2 linked regions of the Homo sapiens genome follow. The protein of the gene in region 1 purifies or fractionates together with the protein of each later gene. This does not show direct contact. Each region holds a gene or a part of one and is shown in the gene's direction. Other genes may lie near its edges.

Region 1 (2,597 bases):
AGAGTGTGCACAGGAGACAGATCAAATCTCATTTTCAGCCAATAAATGAGTTAGCTTCTTCCACGTTGGAGGCCCAGAGCTGTGAGCCCCAAACACACCCGGATAAGACGCTGGACCTGCCAGGTGCGGCAGAGCCGAGGACGGGAGAGCCTTCCTTCCCCGCTTCATTTGGGGCCTATTTAGCCATTCTTTTACATCAGTTTTTCCATTAATTTTTTTACCTGGAAATAACACCTTCCTTGCAAAACCTCTCATGGCCGGCCTGGCTCCAGTTCCACATTCACGGGGCCCCCAACCCCTGCGCTGCCGTGGCTGTGCACAAGGGCCGAGCTGCCTCTGCTGGCCATCAGCTCCTCCCAGCCCGGTTCATGGCTGCCCTGGTGAGACGCAGGGTCTGGGGGTGCAACGGGAGGCGGCGGCATGTGCTGTGCTGTCCCGCGTGCGCCGTGCTGACACCGTCCTCTCTTCCTGCTGCAGCCCGTGTTCCTGGCCTTCCGAATCATGCCCGGGGCAGGTAAACCTCATGCCCATGTGCACAAGTGTTGTGTCGTGCAGTGACGTGGTGGTAAATATGACTCCTCCCTCCAGTTCAGCTTTTACGCAGCTTTTCCTGGTGCGTTTGTTCCTTTAACAAATTACGAATTCCGTGACAGGGAAGAGATGCCAGCGCCACGAGAGGACACTTCGTGAGCCTCCCTGTAGCCGTGGACCGAATACGCACTCTTGAAAGCTGCATCGAGAACCCGCCCAAGCGCCACCTGCTAGACGGCCAGCCCCACACTTCGCTTCAGCCTCCGGACCATTCCGGAGCAGCCTCACATACCTCACTGTCTCGTCTGTCTATGTGACATTAAGTAGAAATATTGGTTTTTTTTTTTTTTTTTTAAATAAGTCACAGTCCTGTTGTCAAAACTCTAATAGACAGCAAAGAGGGTCTGTACCGTAGACTTCACAGTTTTCAGTTTTTAATGATTGCCAGTGGAGGGGCTTCTTCAGCACAGAGACCCCCCACTGTGTCCAGGGACCCCCTCTGCCAGGTGGAGGTGTGTCCAGGGGCTGGGGAAGCCGAGACGGGCACTCCCTCTGCCGGCCGGCAGCGTGGCCCTGAGCATGGCAAGGGGGTCTGTCTCTGCCGATGCTCCTTCCGCGGCACTGACTCTGCGCCGTGTCACATGGTTTTTGAATCACACTGCAGCTGCTTTCCATTTTTATATATATATAAATATATATAAATATATACTTTTTAAAAATAATTTATAAATCTTACCAAAACTTATGCTAAATATACTTTCCAGTATGAACGCACAGGAGAGTCCCATCAGCAGGCGGCATTGGAGTCTAGGAGCTCAGCTGTGTGTCCATCAACACACAAATTCGTAAAAAACACACATGGCCTCGCCATCGTGGGTAAAATCGGCCCCACAGCACGTCTGCACCAGCGGGCCGTTACTCCCATGCCGTTCTTCTGTGTAATATTAAGAACTGAATGTGAAGTTTATAGCTAGCCTGGGTGTACCTTTTAAGAATTTTGTAAACCGTTTGTCTGTCTTTTGTTACTGTTTTATGGTGCCAAGTATCCTACGTTACAACAATAATATCATGGGAGAAATAGAAATAGCCTAGTTTGCTTCCAATAGAAACTGCTTTTAACATGGGCTGTATATAAAAATATTAAAGAGAAACAAAACTGTACATTTCCTCATTGCTCCGCTACAGACAACCCATGTCATAACCTTGTTGCAAATATTTTTCTCCTATAGCAGTAAGTACAGCATTAGAAGGTGATTAGAGAGTCTGTTGATGAAACACAAATGTATGTTTTATTGATTTTACTTTAGAACACTACAGAGTTCCTGGACCGGGTGAAGGCATTAGCTGGGTGTTTGTGTGGGATAAATACTACCACTGCAAGTGACTGCTGTCCGCTGCGGAATCTGTTCTTGGTGGAAGCACAGGTCCGTGTCGCTGCTGTGGTTGCCGCTGTCCGCGGTTCAACACGGAGTCCGCCCCGCGGGTTTCAGCTGTTGGTCGTTCTGAGGGGCCTTTGGAAGTGACCGGTCTGGTTCCTAAGCAATAAAATTGACCGTGGTGAAAATAGTCCCGTGTTGCTTTTTCTTCCTTTCCCTTCTCCTGCCACCTTTGAAATGCTAACTCAGGGGAGCGGCCTCCTGTATAGCCTGTTATTTGAGATCAAGCTCATTAGAAATCCTGGAATTTCACTGTATCACACGCTGTCACAAAACACTAAGCCGTTCATTGAGAGGAGAAACACAGCCTTTTGGACTTTCTACTGTAATAAAGGATTTATCCCTCAACATTTTAAAACGGGATTATATCAACGCTTTGCCTTCCTCAAAACTTTAAGAAGCCCCTCTGCTCTGAGCTGAGAGGGGCTCCCCACAGAAAAGCGTTGCTTCTGCCCTTCGAGTTGCTTCCTTGTAAAGAAGGCTGCTAAGAGCCTAAAACAAAACGCGCCGAGTTTAAGCCCTTTCTATTTCCCTTTAACGCTTCCGCAAATGCCAAGAGAAATCGTACCACCGCAGTGATATCATTATTTACATTTAATTTTTAAAAATTAAAACTCAACAGCCACGCCC
Region 2 (3,500 bases), on another chromosome or scaffold:
TGTTTCTGGAGCTTCCATTTTGTGGTATGTATTAAACAAATGTAACATAGGAGGCATCAAAGTGTGATAAGTGGTGTGGAGAATAGAACAAGGAAAGAAGATAGGCTGGGGCAAAGGAGTTGACAGAGAAACCTTCCTGATTGGATGATGTTTGAGCAGAGCTGAAGAAGGTGAGGGAGCGTTATGTGGCTATCTGAAACGAGTGTTCCAGGCAGAGCCTGTGACTATATGAGGCAGGAGTTCTTTTGGCTCAATCATTCTCTCCAAAAATCCTTCTCTGGTGCCTTGATCTGGATAGATGCCACTTTTGTGTTTTTCTACTTGCTGTTGTGTTTACCTCTAAAGTAGCACTTATTACATCATGTTATAATTGTCCATGTATATGTCTGTTTCCCTCACTTGGATTGGGTTTCTTGAGAGCAGGAACCTCTGATCCTTCTCTGTCTTCTCAGCATCTATTTTAGGGCCTGACACAGAGGAGGAACCTAGAAATATTTATTGAATCAATTGTTCTTACAGCCTGATAATATTTACAAATGATTTGTAAAATTGGGTTTGGATGACAGTTGGTTTGAGGAAAAAGTAATTCTAAGGCTGCTTTTTGTCTGTCTGGCTTGATTCCCCTTTTGGACCTCTGAGAAGTGGAACACCTGGTTTTCTTTAAGAAGAATACTTGGAGACTCCATTGTGAGCATTATGGCAGGGTAGCCAACCTGTAAAATGGTGGGTAAAATATAACAAAGCCGGCCGGGCACGGTGGCTCATGCCTGTAATACCAGCACTTTGGGAGGCCAAGGTGGGTGGATCACCTGAGGTCAGGAGTTGGAGACCAGCCTGGCCAACATGGTGAAACCCGTCTCTGCTAAAAATACAAAAAATTAGCTGGGCGTGCTGGCGGGCGCTTGCAATCCCAGCTACTTGGGAGGCTGAAGCAGGGGAGTTGCTTGAACCCAGGAGGTGGAGGTTGCAGTGAGCCGAGCTCACACCATTGCACTCAAGCCTGGGCAACAAGAGCAAAACTCCGTCTCAAAAGAAAAAAAATAACAAAGCCCTTTATAGCTGAATTTGCAAGAAAGTAAGAGAAATCTCCAGGGACCTAGAAACCAAGAGTGAACTGAAAACCAGAGTGGTTAGCTCCTTAATCTGCCCTCAGCTGCACTGGATGTCTCACCTAGAAACTTGGACTTTAATAGGCCTGTTGTTATACCAAATGAAGCTATAGGTCCGCATGGGTTAGACTCTAGTGGGTTTTTTGTTGTCGTTGTTGGTGTTTTTTTGTTTTTGTTTTTGAGATGGAGTCTTGCTCCGTCTCCCAGGCTGGAGTGCAGTGGGGCAATCTCAGCTCACTGCAAGCTCTGCCTCCTGGGTTCACACCATTCTCCTGCCTCAGCCTCCTGAGTAGCTGGGACCACAGGTGCCTGCCAGCACACCCGGCTAATTTTTTTGTATTTTTAGTAGAGATGGGGTTTCACCATGTTAGCCAGGATGGTCTCGATCTCCTGACCTCGTGATCCGCCCACCTTGGCCTCCCAAAGTGCTGGGATTACAGGTGTGAGCCACCACGCCCGGCCTGGTTAGACTCTAGTTTTTGACAGAGGATGGCATGTGAAATACTCACATGAAGCTAGGTCCCTTGAAAATCTGCACCCTGTGTAGGGTGTATACCTTCTGATAGGGTGGACTAGTATCTTAATTCACTTTCTGTTGCTTATAACAGAATACGTGAAACTGGGTAACTTATAAAGAAAAGAAATTTCTTGCAGTTATGGAGTCCGAGAAATCCAAGGTCCAGAGGCCACATCTGGTGAGGGCTTTCTTGCTGGTGGGGACTCTGCAGAGTCTGGAGGTGGCATAGGGCATCACATGGCAAGGGGGCTGATTATGCTAGCTCAGATCTCTAGTTTTCCTCTTATAAAGCCCCTAATGCACTCCCATGATAACCCATTCATCCATTCATCCATTCATGAGGACAGAGCCCTTATAACCCTATCATCTCTTAGAGGCCCCACCTCTCAACACTGCCATATCAGGGATTAAGTTTCAACATGAGTTTTAGAGGGGACAAATATCAAACCAGATCTACTAGGAAAAAAAAAAATTCTCCCTACTGACACAGATAGAAGACAAAGAGATTGCCTTTTATCCTAGGCTTTCGTACAGAAAAAAAGTTTTCCCAGAAAATTCTTAACCATAGGCATTCACTCATACAGATACCCAAATGGCCTAGAAACTCCAAGCCAAGAAGTTGATAATAAAAACCACCTCAGGCTGGTAATACCCCTGGATGCTTGGCAAAAACAAATGCAAAACCGCTCTGCTCCAAGATACATACTTGATACAGGCCACATAGAATTCCCACAGGGTCTGGAGTTAATGAAATTCTCATTTGTTAAACAAGAATGTATATTGCTTGCTTTGTGCTATTGAGAGCATATGTTATTCTTGTATAAAGAAACATTTGAATATATCTGTGCCCCCCCACCTTTGCTCTCCAGAAGTGAAATGATGAAGCAGAATTTATATGCAGGCCAGCATCTGGGTATGGACACACATTAAGCTTCCTTCTATCCTTGCAGAGGTCATGGAAGAAGTGACAACATGCTCCTTCAACAGCCCTCTGTTCCGGCAGGAAGATGACAGAGGGATTACCTACCGGATCCCAGCCCTGCTCTACATACCCCCCACCCACACCTTCCTGGCCTTTGCAGAGAAGCGTTCTACGAGGAGAGATGAGGATGCTCTCCACCTGGTGCTGAGGCGAGGGTTGAGGATTGGGCAGTTGGTACAGGTGACTCTTCATCCCAGATCTGAGTCTGGGCCTCAGTTTCTCTTCACAAAGCTCAGAGCTCTTCAGGATCTGTGCCTTTTCTCATCAGTACAGGAAAGCCCTGTGTGGGGAGCAGAGGCAGAAAAAACAGCAAAAACAATGGCTCTCACTGAGTGCTTATTGTGTGCCAGGGGCACATTGGGTCCTCACAGCCATTCTGTGTCGTAGGTACTGTTTTCAGTCATATTTTACAGACAAGGAAACTGAGACTCAGAGAGGTTGCCATTTGCTCAAGGTTATACAGCTATAATAAAGCAGTAGAAGCTGGTTTCAAACTCAGTCGCTGACTCCAGAGACCTCCACAGTTATTTAGATTCAGCTAACGTATGATGTGCCTTTCATTTATATTCCATTTAATCCTCATAAATCACCCAGGGAAGTAAGCATTGGTAGTCCAGTTTTGCTGATGAGAGATCCTAGTGCTCCAAGAGGTAAGTAACTTGCTCAGGACCACATTTAGCAGGTGACAGGGGGATACCAGTAATAACCACGCTTCTACTACTAAATGCTGTATGTGAGGTATATTTTATTATCCCCATTTTGCAGGAGGCAACCAGGCCTGAGAATTAAGGTCATTTGCTTTGGTCACGCGTCTAATAAGTGGGAGAACTGGAGTTAGAGCCCTTCCTCTTCAGTAGAACATTTTGACTGTATTTTTAGTGAGGAAAGAAGG

The links. Proteins that work in one complex are often made in the same cells at the same time.
Region 2: the proteins of INPP5A (region 1) and NEU3 fractionate together in Homo sapiens (co-fractionation; one large-scale study listed by BioGRID). This does not show direct contact.

Annotation. Positions count from the first base shown.
Region 1 is NC_000010.11:132,781,384-132,783,980, forward strand, and holds the end of INPP5A (inositol polyphosphate-5-phosphatase A), read left to right. Parts: intron 1-477; coding exon 478-558; 3' UTR 559-565; intron 566-653; 3' UTR 654-2,097; downstream 2,098-2,597. UniProt on the Homo sapiens protein: Phosphatase that specifically hydrolyzes the 5-phosphate of inositol 1,4,5-trisphosphate to inositol 1,4-bisphosphate, and inositol 1,3,4,5-tetrasphosphate to inositol 1,3,4-trisphosphate. Plays a crucial role in the survival of cerebellar Purkinje cells.
Region 2 is NC_000011.10:74,991,933-74,995,432, forward strand, and holds part of NEU3 (sialidase-3), read left to right. Parts: intron 1-2,576; coding exon 2,577-2,788; coding exon of another isoform or gene 2,789-2,995; exon of another isoform or gene 2,996-3,106; intron 3,107-3,500. UniProt on the Homo sapiens protein: Exo-alpha-sialidase that catalyzes the hydrolytic cleavage of the terminal sialic acid (N-acetylneuraminic acid, Neu5Ac) of a glycan moiety in the catabolism of glycolipids, glycoproteins and oligosacharides.